Homo sapiens: one gene and its partner. The protein of the gene in region 2 purifies or fractionates together with the protein of the main gene of each other region. This does not show direct contact. Each region holds a gene or a part of one and is shown on either strand. Other genes may lie near its edges.

Region 1 (7,039 bases), on a different chromosome or scaffold from region 2:
TGACATGAACCCCAAGCATTTTCTGTGGTAAAAGAGCAAGAGATACAACCATGAGAAATATTGGGCAGCAGATTAAATGGAGGAGGACACATTGACAAAGATGAAAAAGAGAAATATGACATGATAACAAAAGAATAGAAGGGCTTAATTTTAAAATAACAGTGTATTCTCATTTAATGGAGAGACTAAAAGCATTATTCTCTTTACTGGTCCCTAAACATACTCCTTTTACAGTAATCAGTGTATGTATGCACACTGAAGACTCTTGCTCATCAAGGAAAGACAGGGTTCTATTGATTATACTATGTTTGTAGAATATGTAATTCACTTTAGATTTTAGAAAGATGTCCATGTACATATAAAAAATGTTCTGTGAACATAAAGAAATGGATAATGTTAAATTGCCAGGACATTTTGCTGATATTAAAAACCCCAAGATATTGCTACTTCTTACTGTGGTATTTAAGATGCTTGTGATTCAGTATTTCTGCTTGTTTTGCTTACGTGATTATTTGTGTATATAAAGGTTCGCAAAACCATTTCTGTCTGTTCACTATTGGCGCTAGTGAAAGACTGGGGGGTTTTATTGCATGTTTTGCTTTTGCAAAGGCAGATGCCCTTCTTGAGCTGCTTTCCCAGGAGCTGTGACTCTGGTGATCCAAGGAACGCATTTGCAAGATGACTGACAGCCTGACAGGGTTGGTGTGATGCAGCTTGTGGTCCGAAGTAGAGTGACACTTTACAGTAAATGAGCCACAGTTGCTCCTTTTTAAAAAAAATTTAGTAAGAAATCCACTAAAGTGACAGAGTTTTATTACCTCCATGCATGTGGGATACTAAGGTAGTTCTAATGATTCTTTTCCGGCTTAACAAGGAAAAGTCACAAAATTTGTTTTCCATATTTCAGAAAACAAAGATGTAAATGTAAGCACTGATACCAGAGCAATATGTTATAGAGTATGACAACTAATTAAAATCAAAGACTTTGTGATTTATTCAGATTTATTTTCACAGGATAGAACAGCACTTTCCAAAATCTGAGTACTTTACAGAGCTCTTTTGTTAGAAATTGCATTTGCAAGAGCAATTTTATAGTGCTGAAGAGATCTGCTTTTCTGTAGCACAGGGGAAAGAGGAAATATGTCCATACGAAGCCTTGTACATGAATGTTCATAGCAGCTTTATTTGCATTAGCCTAACCTAAATGCCCTTCAACAGGCAAATAAACAACACACTTTGGCATATTCATTCAATAGAATACTACTCTGCAAAAAAAGGGGAAGAACCATTGATAATGCAGCAACATAGATGAATATAAAATAACTATCTGCAAAGCCAAGCAAAAATGAGTGTATACTCTATGATTCAATTTGTATAAAATTCTAGTAAATATCTGCAAACTAAACCCTAGGGAAAGAAAGTCAGTCAGTGGCTGTCTGGTGAGAGTGGATTGGGGGAAAGGAAAGAAGAGGGAGGGAGGAAGAAGAAGAAGCAAGTAAAAGGTGATGAATATGTTCACTTCCTTGATTGTGATAATGGCTTCACGGGTAGATACATATGTTAAAACTTACAAATTATACATATACACTTTAAATGTCTGCAGCTTATTGTATGACAGTTACAGGTCAATGAAACTGTTAAAAAGAAAAATCAACACAAATCACTCTTTTACATACATCCTCTAATCCCTTGTTCCTTCCTTTCTTAAGGCATTAGCTTGGCAAAACCCCATTGTCTGCCAATTCCATTCCTGCACCTATGCAACTGTGTGTGGTTGGCAAAAAATAAACTACACTGAGACCAGGCGTGGTGGCTCACGTCTGTAATCCCAACACTTTGGGAGGCCAAGACAGGAGAATCCCTTGAGGCCAAGAGTTTGAGACCAGCCTGGTCAACATAGTGAGACCCTGTCTCTTTAAAATAAATAAATAAAGTGGCACTTGAGAAGAAGTTATATAAAATAAGGGTACAGTAGAAAACCAATTTTTGTTCAAAAATTATGTCTATATACAACTTATAGAAAGAACATTTGGAAGTTTAGAAACCAAAAAATAAGCAGTGGCTATTTCCTAGCAGGATACAGGTGATTTTTATTTTCTTGTTTATGTTTTTCTGTACAATCTCACTTTTTTTTTTAACAAGCAGCATAAATTACTTCTATAATCATTAAAATGAAAAATTCTGTTTCTACTTTGAGATATTAGACTATCATCTGTATGGGGTGTATTTGGCAAACCTACACATGGGATTGTATAAATAGGAGGGTCAGAGGCTGCTTTGGAATACCCAGAGCTTCTGTAAGTATCCTTTTTTGCTGGTCTGACATTTTCCCCCACCATTTCCCCTCCGCCTTGTAGCTAGAAGACGAAATTACAACACTACGACAAGTTTTGTCAGCGAAAGAAAGGCATCTAGTTGAGATAAAACAAAAACTCGGCATGAACCTGATGAATGAATTAAAACAGAACTTCAGCAAAAGCTGGCATGACATGCAGACTACCACTGCGTAAGTATCATATGAACAGTGTTTTATTAACTCAGCCTGATGTCTCCTCACTCTGTTGTGTTTTGTTTCATTTTTCCTACAAGGCTGATTTGGTGCATGAAGCTAGGAAAAAAAAATACTTTCTCTAAAAGCAAAGCAAAGAAATGTGAATAATCATTAAGTATGCTGCATGTGAAGCAGATTCTATAAAGTAGCTTCATGAAATAAAACTCTGTTCACTGAAACTCTATTTTCACTCAGACTACTTTCATTAGGTTTTATTGTTTAAATGTTTTTCTCTTTATATTTTTAACATTTGTCAAATATACTTTTTTTAAAACTTTTTCTCATAAAAACTATAAATGGGAAGGTGTTTTCTCCTCAGCACACTTGACACTCACTATGTATGTCTTCCAAAAGTGGTTGGCAGTTTCAATACTGACTTGCTGGCAATTGATTTACAAAGAAAACCTTGTACTTTTCATCTTTTGTTTTGCACTTTTCATTCTCACTATTCTAGGGAATATTTAGAGCTGGGTTTAGACCAGTTTTAGAGCTTGGTTTAGATTACAGTTTTGGCCCTGTAATCCCAGCACTTTGGGAAGCTGAGGCGGGTGGATCACAAGGTCAGGAGATCAAGACCATCCTGGCTAACATGGTGAAACCTCGTCCCTACTAAAAAATACAAAAAATCAGCTGGGTGTGATGGCATGCCCCTGTAATCCCAGCTACTCGGGAGGCTGAGGCAGGGGAATTGCTTGAACCCAGGAGGCAGAGGTTGCAATGAGTCGAGATGGCGCCACTCCACTCCAGCCTGGCGACAGAGGGAGACTCTGTCTCAAAAAAAAGAAAGGAAGAAATGGTTTTTGCTTTGCCATTATCGTCCTGTCTTGTGCTAGGTAAGGTACAGAATAATCTCAGTTATTCTACAATCACACTTTTTTTATTAGATTATTCTTAAGTTGCATGAAATATTTAATGATGATGGTACTTTTCTAATGTTGCAAAGTATTTTACCTGCTGGGGGTCTTGTACCAAAGGGGAGTACTCCACATATGTGATGTGATTTTTCTTCTTTTTGTGTATTGGGGGTTAGGGGCTGATGAGGAAATCACAGAGGCTTTATCCCTAGCCGTAACTTTAGTCCCAAATTTCACCATTAAGAAATTGTCTTTGGGTTATGCATTTTCTTCTCTACTATCACACTTTGGAAGGTAAAGATATTGCATTCCTAATACCTAAGTGGGAGTCAATTTTTCTTTCTCCTAGGCATAGAAAGGCCTGATGGTAGGAAGAGGTACCAATAATTGACAGCAATTATTTCAGTTTTGCCAGCAGCCAAATTTGCCTGCTGGTTCCTAAGAACTAAGATGTAAGCCTTTTTGCTCCTATGAGAAGATGTCCTTTGTATGAGGAATTGGGTCTAAAACGAGCATGACATCTCCCCAACTTCCTTAGTTTCCATAAGAATGAGAATGTTTTTCTCCCTCTAAATATGGCCTAGCAGTCCTATTGGGCTCTATGCTTGTGCACCCTAAGGACTCAATCAGATAGGTTCAGGGCACAGCCCAGAGTCAGGCAGAATGTAGCCAGGGAGCTTGTCAGTTTATCTCCAGAAGTTAACCAACATTCCCCAACCTAATGATGACAATTACGGGAAAAAATAAGAAACCACACATTGATGTGCAGCAATTTAAAAGATAAGTTGCAACACCATATGAACAATCTCCTGAAAGGATAACTGGATTTTAGGCATTAAATTAAATGAGCTTATCTGTCAGTAGTTTTGGCCTCTGTCTTTCCACTTTCGTGGCCAATACCAATTAATGGCCCTGACAGTGTAAAGTTGAACAAGCTCTAATTCTCTGGGTTTGGTCACCTCTGTATTTAATCCAGGCCTGAGGGTTTCGTATAACACTGGTCTGAACTTCCCTGTGGGGTATAAGTACCAGGAAGACCTTCCTGCATGGCCTTCCTAATCACATTGCATAGGTAAACTAACCAAATGGAAGGTGGGGCAATGCTGGCAGTTTTGTTGCTGAAGGAGAGAGGTGCCTGGCAGGGAGGTGGGAATGTCTGAGCAGAGGGAGTGTCAAGTTTGTGCAAGGTCTGCCAGGGGAAGGGAGGGGAGAGACTCATATTCCTCCTGGGACTGGAAATAGAGCTGGCAAGTTCAAGGAAGGCTTCTAGCCTCTTCCCACAGGGGATAATGTCTAATTTGTGTTTTTCCATGTTTGAAAAACTAATAGGTTTTATAGCCAGGTAGTCTACTTAATGTAAAGCATTTTGCTGGATGAATAGCCTAGATTTATTCCCTGGGGTTATGGAGTTTAGAGTCTAGTTAGGAAGACAGAGTTTGAGTTTTTGTTGTTGTTGTTGTTGTTGTTGTTTGTTTGTTTGTTTATACGACAAAATCATGGACAAGGGGGATAGAAAGGATTTGGAGAACAGATCAACAGTGGTTTGCAGGTGGATGATGAAGGAAATAGGACCAAGTGTGATGTCTAGGCCTTTGACTTGGGCTACTGAGTGAGTGTTGGAACTGTTTACGAGCATTGTGGTTAGGCTCATGGTTGCTTGGGTTGAAATCTAGGCCTTGCTGCATTCATGAAGTGAGATCATCTTAATGCCGATCCCATAGGTAGTGAAGATTCAGTAAGTTAATGTTCGTAAAGGCTGCAGGACAGCATCTGACACTTTGTAGGCATGAAATGATTATTTGCTGCTGTGAGAAAGACTGAGAAACAAGTCTGGAGGAGAGGCACAATAATTCGTTTTGGCTCCGTAAAGTCTGAAATGCCCAATAGATAAACAGATTTATAGGCTGAGAGGACAACTCAGTGTAAAAGTTTAAGGCAGAGATGGACATTTGGGATTCAACTGCATATAGATAACATCGAAAACTAGATGACTAGATGAGATTTCCCTGGGGATTACTTAATAAATACAAATGGTCATGAACTCACTAACCTTTAGGAATGAAGTGAACTTTCCTTTGTAGGGAAGAACCAGTCCCTCTCTTTAGGAGGAGGCATAAGTCTATCAACCATATAATTTGGGGAAAGGGTCTGTCCCCAACCCTTTCTTCTTGGTTGTTGAGGGAAGGCAGCGGATCTTAATCATATGTTTGGAGGAGCGATAAAATCTGTATCCCTCTGAATTAATTAAACCCCTGCTCTTAGTGCTGTTTATGATACCCATTCCAGGACAAAATCTGCACCTCATCTGATGAAAAATTTGATGTGAAGAAATGATGAGCTATGATCAGGTTAGGTTAGGTAGAATTAGATTTCAAAGCACTAAAAAAAATTTTTAGCTGTCAGAGGATGTGTGTGATTCCCAGAGGCAATACTTTGCATACTGATTAAGCAATCATGACCTATTTAGTTTGATTTATAATGAAAAGAAAATCTATGGTATGTTAATGAAAGATCTTGGCATATTTCAGTCTGCAGTAGGATTCAAATTGAAATAGGCCTTGATAAGTAGGAATAATTACACAGCAGACTGAAATTACCTCCTTTACAGAAAGATTCCAGGAATACAGGAAAAGGTCAAGGGATCATCGGTATCCAGGGTTTCTTGTTGCTGTTGTTCTTGTCATAGTTTTTTACTTGCCTAGATTTGTATCTAAGAACATACAAAAAAGTCCTCTCCATTTTTTGGTTTTCTGCTGCCTTTTTATGTTGTCTTTAGACTTCAAGGAGACATGGGAGAGGTGGGTGACTTTGGGGTAAAGGAGGAGAAATTGAATCTCTTCTGTAGGCAGAAGTAGAATCAGGAAATACAACTTTATGGTGGGCTATTCAAAGCAGTGGGCTTCATGTATTCAACAAGTATTCTGCTTTGCTAACCCATGAAACATGAAATCCCCCCACTAATAAACCCCTCTGAATCGTGCCACAATCTAAATGGTAAGTCGACAGAGGGCAGAGGTTTTGGAAAGGAATTTAAACTATTCCATCTTTTTGAAAGCTTAATAATTTTATCCTACATAAAGAGGACGAAAAGCCTCACATTCAGCATTTTAAAAACGCACAGTGCTCAAAAATTGAACGTTAGTTTATGATTTATTTACTCTTTGATTTTGTTCTTCTAAGACTTCCAGGCCATTAATGGTCAGGAATTCTTATTATCTCTTTTTATGAGGGAGCCTGGTTGTAGCACTATTGAGTTCAGGAGTGCCAGTGAAGATTAAAGACCTAATTTTAAAAGATGTACACACCCAATCTCTCACATGGTTGTTCATTCTTTTTACCTTCAGGCTTTCATCTTATTACACAAGGCAGGAAGTAGATTCTTTTCTTCTAGATTCAAGTGGTAAATTTATGTTCTGATAACATATTTAGGGAGCCTTTGGAATAAAATAATCTTAAATGTTTTTTTGTATCTTTGGTGAAATGCTGCATATTCAACCATTAAAGGAACACTTTCTTTTAAATCTCATAAGAGGAAATATATTCGTGCTGTAAAATATCTTCTTCTAAAAAGATGAATTTTTTATTTCTTCTAGTTGTATGTAGAAAAATGCTTTATTTAAGTCAAAACAATTTA
Region 2 (7,039 bases):
TTGCGTATCTTGGCGATTGTGGATAATGCTGCACTGAACATGGGAGTGCAGATATCTCTTTTACATATTGACTTCCTTTCCTTTGGATGTATACCCAGTATTGGATTGCTGGATCATATGGTAGTTGGTAGTTCTATTTTTTGAGATGGAGTCTGGCTCTGTCACCCAGGCTAGAGTGCAGTGATGTGATCTCGGCTCACTCCAGCCTCCGCCTCCTGGGTTCAAGTGAGTCTCCTGCCTCAGCCTCCTGAGTAGCTGGAACTACAGGCATGTACTACCAAGCCTGGCTAATTTTTGTATTTTTGGTAGAGATGGGGTTTTGCCATGTTTCCCAGGCTGGTCTCAAGCTCCTGGCCTCAAGTGATCTGCCCACCTCAGCCTCCCAAAGTGTTGGGGTTACAGGCGTGAGCCACTGCGCCCTGTCCTATTTTCAGTTTTTTTTTTGAGGAACCTCCATACTGTTTTCCAAGTAATATTTAAACATTTAAATTTGCCAGGAAAATGTGTCAGAAGCCTGTTGTCAGGGCTACCATGAGTCCATATAATGCCTTTGTGTAAATTAGAAAATGTACCCTTTCCTTAAGACAATTAATTGTTATAATAAATATACTGATTTTCTTAGAATGAGATGCTTTACTGCCAGGAAGTTTTAATAAATATACAAATCTACTCTGTATTCATTCTGAATGGGAACTCCCCACCCCCAGGATTGTTCAGTGTACCACCCGCATGGCTGTACATGGCAGCCCTGCTTATCAAAGAATGGTGAATCCATGTAAGTCCTGATATCTATGTATCTGTTGTCTTAGAGCAAGGCCCACTGTTATGGGCCTCCCTATGCATAGCTATGACTTTGCCCTCATCTGTGCTTCCTTGGGCTCCGTGGGCTAGCAGGCCCTGGTGCCTCCTTACAACCACCTTTGGGGCCCCATAGGCAGAGATGGAGTTGGTCCAGCATATTGGAATCCCTGCCAGTAAGATCATCTGCGCCAACCCCTGTAAGCAAATTGCACAGATCAAATATGCTGCCAAGCATGGGATCCAGCTGCTGAGCTTTGACAATGAGATGGAGCTGGCAAAGGTGGTAAAGAGCCACCCCAGTGCCAAGTAAGCTGAGAACCACTCATGGGGAGGCTGGGCTGTGGGGAGCCTGGGCTGTGGGGAGCCTGGGCTGTGGGGAGGCTGGGCTGTGGGGAGGCTGGGCTGAGGGAAGGCTGGGCTTCAGAGTGAAGGGGGGGGTGGGGTGAGGGGGTGGAGCTGGGGCAGGTCACCCTGTCCTGGACCCAGCCACAGTTGCAGGAGGTTGGGGCAGGTACTCCTGGACTGAACCCAGGATGCTAGGGTCTAGCTAGAACAAAGGCAGAAATAACTGGTTAAAGCCCTAGGCAGAGTGAGACCCATGTGTTATGGAGGCCAAAGTCACAGGCTTGAGAGAGTCGAGGGAGTGGTCAGGAAGGCTCCACGGAGGAAGTGGCATTTGAAGCAGGCCTTGAGGAATGAATAGAATTTGGAGGGGGCATAAATAGTGAACTGCGTAAGCAAATGCATTGAGGTTGGAAACAGCATGGGACATTCAAGCGTAAGCAGAAACTTAGTGTGGCTGACGCATGCTATGTGTAGGGGGTGAAGGAGATCCTGGTCGGGGGCGGGGAGCCGATGCAAATGGACTTTCGAAGGGGTCAGGGCTGGACGTTTTGCTCTGGCTGTGCCTTTTACATGATTACTGGACACCCTTGGACTTCCCAGGAGGGGCCTTGGGGTGAAGGGGGTGGCCAGGTGATGGGCCACTCCAGTCCATCCAAAGCAGCTTCCATCGTATTAATGGGTTCTCCTTAAGGCTTTGTTTAAAAATGGTTCCTCTCATACACGACAAGTTTGAAAGCTCTAACTGGTGTGGAGACTGATTTGGAGGGACTGGAGCTGCCCCAGGAGAGTTGGTGAGGTCTGGACCAGGGCGCAGGGGCTGCAGGAATGGGTCAGGGACATTTAGAGAATGGATTGGACAGGACTTGAAGGTTGATTGGCTGTGTAGGGAGAGGGAGGGGTCAGGGAGCCTGTGGGGTTGGGTGGCTCTGAGCCATGTAGCTCACAGCCCTTGATTGAGAGATGTGGCTGGGGTGGGGCGACAGGGTTTGTCCAGCAGAGGGGCACTGCGTGTCTCATCAGGATGGTTCTGTGCATTGCTACCGATGACTCCCACTCCCTGAGCTGCCTGAGCCTAAAGTTTGGAGTGTCACTGAAATCCTGCAGACACCTGCTTGAAAATGCGAAGAAGCACCATGTGGAGGTGGTGGGTGTGAGGTGAGCACTGGGAACCCCTGCCATCCCCTCCCACACCAGGCTCCCTGCCTCTTTCCCAGGAATTAATTCTATATGAGACCTTCCCCAGGGCCTCTGAGTAGGGCCTGTCCCTGGGCCTGGAATTCTTCCATTTGAGAATTTCCTCTGTTTGAAAAGGAAGTTTAGAAGGGTCCCTTCCCCAGTCCCAGGGTCCCCAGAAGGTCTTGTCCCAGGAAGTTCCATCCAGAGACCTGGCTTTGAGGGAGTCTTACCAGCCTGTAGGACAAAGGTTTTGCAGCTACACTCTTGAGGGGCCTCTTTTCTTTTCTTTCTTTCTTTTTTTTTTTTTTTTTGAGATAGGGTCTCACTCTGTCACCTAGGCTGGAGTGCAGTGGCATGATCATGGTTTTCTGCAGCCTTGAGCTCCCAGGCTCAAGCAATTCTCTCTCCCGCCTCAGCCTCCCAAGTAGCTGTGACCACAGGCGTGCATTACCACACCTGACTAATTTTTATTTGTTGTAGAGATGGGGTCTCACTTTATTGCTCAAGCTGGTCTCAAAGTCTTGGGCTCAAGCAATCCTTTTGCCTTGGCCTCCCAAAGTGCTGGGATTACAGGTGTGAGCCACTGCACCCAGCTGTGTGCCTCTTTTCTTACAGGGATATGGAAGGAGTAATAATGAACTACCTAATGAACAATGAACTACCTAATATAGGGCTTCATTTATTCTGTACTTAGGTGTGCCAGGTGCTGTGCTAAGTGCTTCATGCACATTCTCTCAGCCTTGTGTGGTGTGGGTCTTGTCCCCGCATTATAGGTGGGGAAACTAAAACAAAGCTGAGTAAGCTGCCAAGGCCACCCTGCTGACTGGGAGGCACAGCCAGATCTGGTTGACTTGGGGGTCCTGGCTCTCATCCCAGAAGGAGGGATGGGAGGAGCACCAAGTGCCAGGAGCCCTTGGATCAAGCCTCCTGTCCACTTCTCCCTTGCCATATGGCCCTTGGCAACCCATTGAACATTTCAGGACCTTGGTCACTGCATCTGTAAAATGGGCACAGTGTCTCATGTGCCTGCCCAATGTCATTCTTGGCTGGGGCTCAGGTGGTGGCACTTGGAGCCCTGCATGTCAGCCGAGGCTCTTCCTCTCTTCCCAGTTTTCACATTGGCAGTGGCTGTCCTGACCCTCAGGCCTATGCTCAGTCCATCGCAGACGCCCGGCTCGTGTTTGAAATGGGCACCGAGCTGGGTCACAAGATGCACGTTCTGGACCTTGGTGGTGGCTTCCCTGGCACAGAAGGGGCCAAAGTGAGATTTGAAGAGGTAACCCTGGAGCTGGGAGTGTCATGCTGGGCTCTATGGCGGGGAGGATAGGGAGGGATTAGATGATCGGAGGGAGACCACCGTGCGTGGGTCCTATGCACTGCATGCAGTGCTTGGTGCTTACCTGGGTGATCTCACTGCTTATTAACCCTGTGCTACAGCTGAGCAAGCCAAGGCTCACAGAGGTTACATTGCTTCCTGAGCCCAAAGCAGAACCTGGTTCTGCCTGCCATGCACTTCAGCCAATTGGAGGCATAACCAGGACACATTTACATAAGTCGTAAGGCTCTTTAAGGGGCGGGATAGGCCTCTTCACCCTAAGGTGGGCTGATGAGATATCGGGTGGGGAGGCAGGGAAACGAAAACCAACCTTTGGTCTGCTGCCTGTCCATTCTCTTCCTCTATTCCCTTTTCCTTACCCACTGTGAGGTGAAGTTAAGAAAAATGTGTCCTAGCAGTTCCCACTCCAACCACTAGAGGTCGCCTCTTCTTGGAAGGCGCCTCCTTCGGGAATACCGACATGTAGGAATTGACCTTACAGAAATGATTTGGGATAGTCTCAAAGAATTTGCCTCAAAGATGACTGTTCTAGCTTTGTTCCTAACAGAAGTCCAGTGGACTTCCCTGGTCCATCTAATACTCAGGATTTGTTAAATTATGGTACATCCTTTTGATGAAAACACTTCCTTAATGTGGGGAGGTCGTTCACAGTCTATTAAGTAAAACAGGTTCCAAAAACATATACAGAGACCTACCATGGTTATAATAAAAAATAGCGTTTGTATAAAAAATAATTAAAGACACTACTCCAAAAAGTTAACAATAATTAGATTCATCTAGTTGATAGACTTTGGAGTGACTTTTATCTTCTTTTTCCTTTTCTGTATTTTCTGAATTTTCTGTAATCAAGTATATTACAGTTGACCTTTGAACAACGCAGAGCTTAGGAGCACCGACCCCCTACACACTACAAAATCTGCATATAACTTTTGATTCCCCTAAAACTTAGCTACTATAGCCTACTGTTGACAAGAAGCCTTGCTGATAACATAAACAGCCGATTAACAGATATTTTATGTGTGATATGTATTATATACTGTATTCTTACAATAAAGTAAGCTAGAGGAAATAATTTTTTTTTTGAGACAGAGTCTCACTCTATCACCCAGGCGTGAGTGCAGTGGCACAATCTTGGCTCACTGCAACCTCCGTCTCCTGGGTTCAAGAGATTCTCGTGTCTCAGCCTCCCAAGTAGCTAGGATTACAGGTGCAAGCCACCATGCTCAGCTATTTTTTGTATTTTTAGTAGAGACGGGGTTTCACCATGTTGGCCAGGCTGGTCTCGAATTCCTGACCTCAAGTGATCTGCCCACTTCAGCCTCCCAAAGTTCTGGGATTACAGGCATGAGCCACCATGCCTGGCCAGAAATAAAATATTATTAAGAAAATTATAAGGAAGGGAAAATGTATTTACTATTCATTAAGTGGAAGTGGATCATCATAAAGGTCTTTGTCCTCATTGTCTTCAAGTTGAGAAAGCTGTGGAGGAGGAGCAGGAAGAGGAGGGCTTGGTCTTGCTGTCTCAGGGTGGCAGAGGCAGAAGAAAATCCATGCATAAGTGGACCCACACGGTTCAAACCTGTGTTGTTTAAGGGTCAACTGTATTTAACAAACTGGTTATTTATGAAAGAAAGATCCACATCAGGGCTTCTGGAATCTGAGTACCAAGTGTGATATGAAGAGGACTCCTTCCCATTGTGGGGCCATGGAGGAGGGTGATTTACACAAGCACGAGGCTCTCTACCCAGCTCTGTCCCCCTCCTACCTTCTTGGCCAGCTGTCCACAGTTATCAGCTGGGGCCTTAGCAGCTGCCAAATCCTTCTTCCGGAAATCAAAGCAGCTTTCAAGAAATAGACTTGGAGCTGTAGCAAGTCTTCAGCATAAAGCCCACATTTCAAACACATAATTGTCTCCCCATTCTCCTCCTACCAGATTGCTTCCGTGATCAACTCAGCCTTGGACCTGTACTTCCCAGAGGGCTGTGGCGTGGACATCTTTGCTGAGCTGGGGCGCTACTACGTGACCTCGGCCTTCACTGTGGCAGTCAGCATCATTGCCAAGAAGGAGGTTCTGCTAGACCAGCCTGGCAGGGAGGGTAGGTGCCAGGTGGGCAGTGGAGCCCTGTTCTCCCCTGAAGCTTCAGATAGTGGTTGGCTGAGCAGGATCTGGTTTTAGACCCAGTGGCAGAGGATGGGGGAATCTGGAGAATGAATGGGTTCTTGCTTTAGGGAAACTTTCAGTCAAGTCGCCCCACCCCAAGACATTTATTTAGCATCTTTTTTCCTAGGCATGTTCATATTTTGTGAAGATTGAGAGCAAAACAACCTTAGAGAGAATAGATACTCTGTTGACCCCATTTTACAGATGAGGAAACCGAGAACCAAAGAGAATACAAGTGAACTGCTTAATAGCTAGTAAGAGCCTGCATTTGACCCCATGTCTGTCTCCTCTCCAAAATACAGGCTCCTACTCACCCTACTGCTTCTCATAATATAATGAAAATAATTAATGACAGCTTACATTTGTTTGAGTCCACTTTACAGATGACAACATAGGCAGGGGGAGGCTGAGTCATTAGCCCAAGGTCACATGGCTGATAAGGGGCAGTGTGGGGATTCAAGTTCAGGTTAGGCTGACTCAGCGCTTCTGGGCCCACATCACCAACATCAGTGCTCTTCCCTCCCCTTCCAGATAGGTCAGGGATAGCAGCCTGTGAGTGACAGGTGTCAGGGACTCTGATCTTGAGGCTTGCCCTCTGCTCTGGGACCCTCATGCAGGGGAGCCTCAGGACTGTGCGCTTTTCCCCAGAGAGAATTCATGTGAAGGGTGGTGGGCTCCAGGTAGAATGTCCTGTGTTCGTGTGTGGCATTCTTCTGGCTTCCTTTATAGACCTGGGGGATTGTCCCGTCTGATCCAATCAAGAGACCTGGCTTCTCATTCTGGCTCATCCACTGCCCTATCATGTGCCTCTGAGCAAGTGGCTTAACCTTTTGGGGTCTTGAGTTTGGGTGGGCTGCTCTTCTGCCTTTGCTGGGGCACCTAGGGGCTCAGATGCAAGCAGGGGAGTGCATCCTGGGCAGGTTGCTTGGCTGCAGGGGTGAGTGTTCCTAACACGGCAGTGAACCCATGTCATTGGAAGGATGGCTGCTGATGGCTTTTGTTGTAGGCCTCGCCTCATGGTTGAGGAATGGGTAGCCATTTTGCTTCCTTACTGAGCCCACTGTTGTGTCAGCCCCACTACCACCCCCTCACATTGCTACTTGTGCTGCCTCTGAACCCTCCCCTCCTGCAGAGGAAAATGGTTCCACCTCCAAGACCATCGTGTACCACCTTGATGAGGGCGTGTATGGGATCTTCAACTCAGTCCTGTTTGACAACAT

The links.
Region 1: the proteins of AZIN2 (region 2) and TPD52L1 purify together in Homo sapiens (affinity purification with mass spectrometry; 2 studies listed by BioGRID and IntAct, with this or other methods). This does not show direct contact.

What each region holds. Positions count from the first base shown.
Region 1 is NC_000006.12:125,226,761-125,233,799, forward strand, and holds part of TPD52L1 (tumor protein D53), read left to right. Parts: intron 1-2,357; coding exon 2,358-2,506; intron 2,507-7,039.
Region 2 is NC_000001.11:33,091,116-33,098,154, forward strand, and holds part of AZIN2 (antizyme inhibitor 2), read left to right. Parts: intron 1-934; coding exon 935-1,107; intron 1,108-2,129; exon of another isoform or gene 2,130-2,166; coding exon 2,167-2,301; intron 2,302-3,432; coding exon 3,433-3,598; intron 3,599-5,591; coding exon 5,592-5,754; coding exon of another isoform or gene 5,755-5,765; intron 5,766-6,891; coding exon of another isoform or gene 6,892-6,951; coding exon 6,952-7,039. UniProt on the Homo sapiens protein: Antizyme inhibitor (AZI) protein that positively regulates ornithine decarboxylase (ODC) activity and polyamine uptake.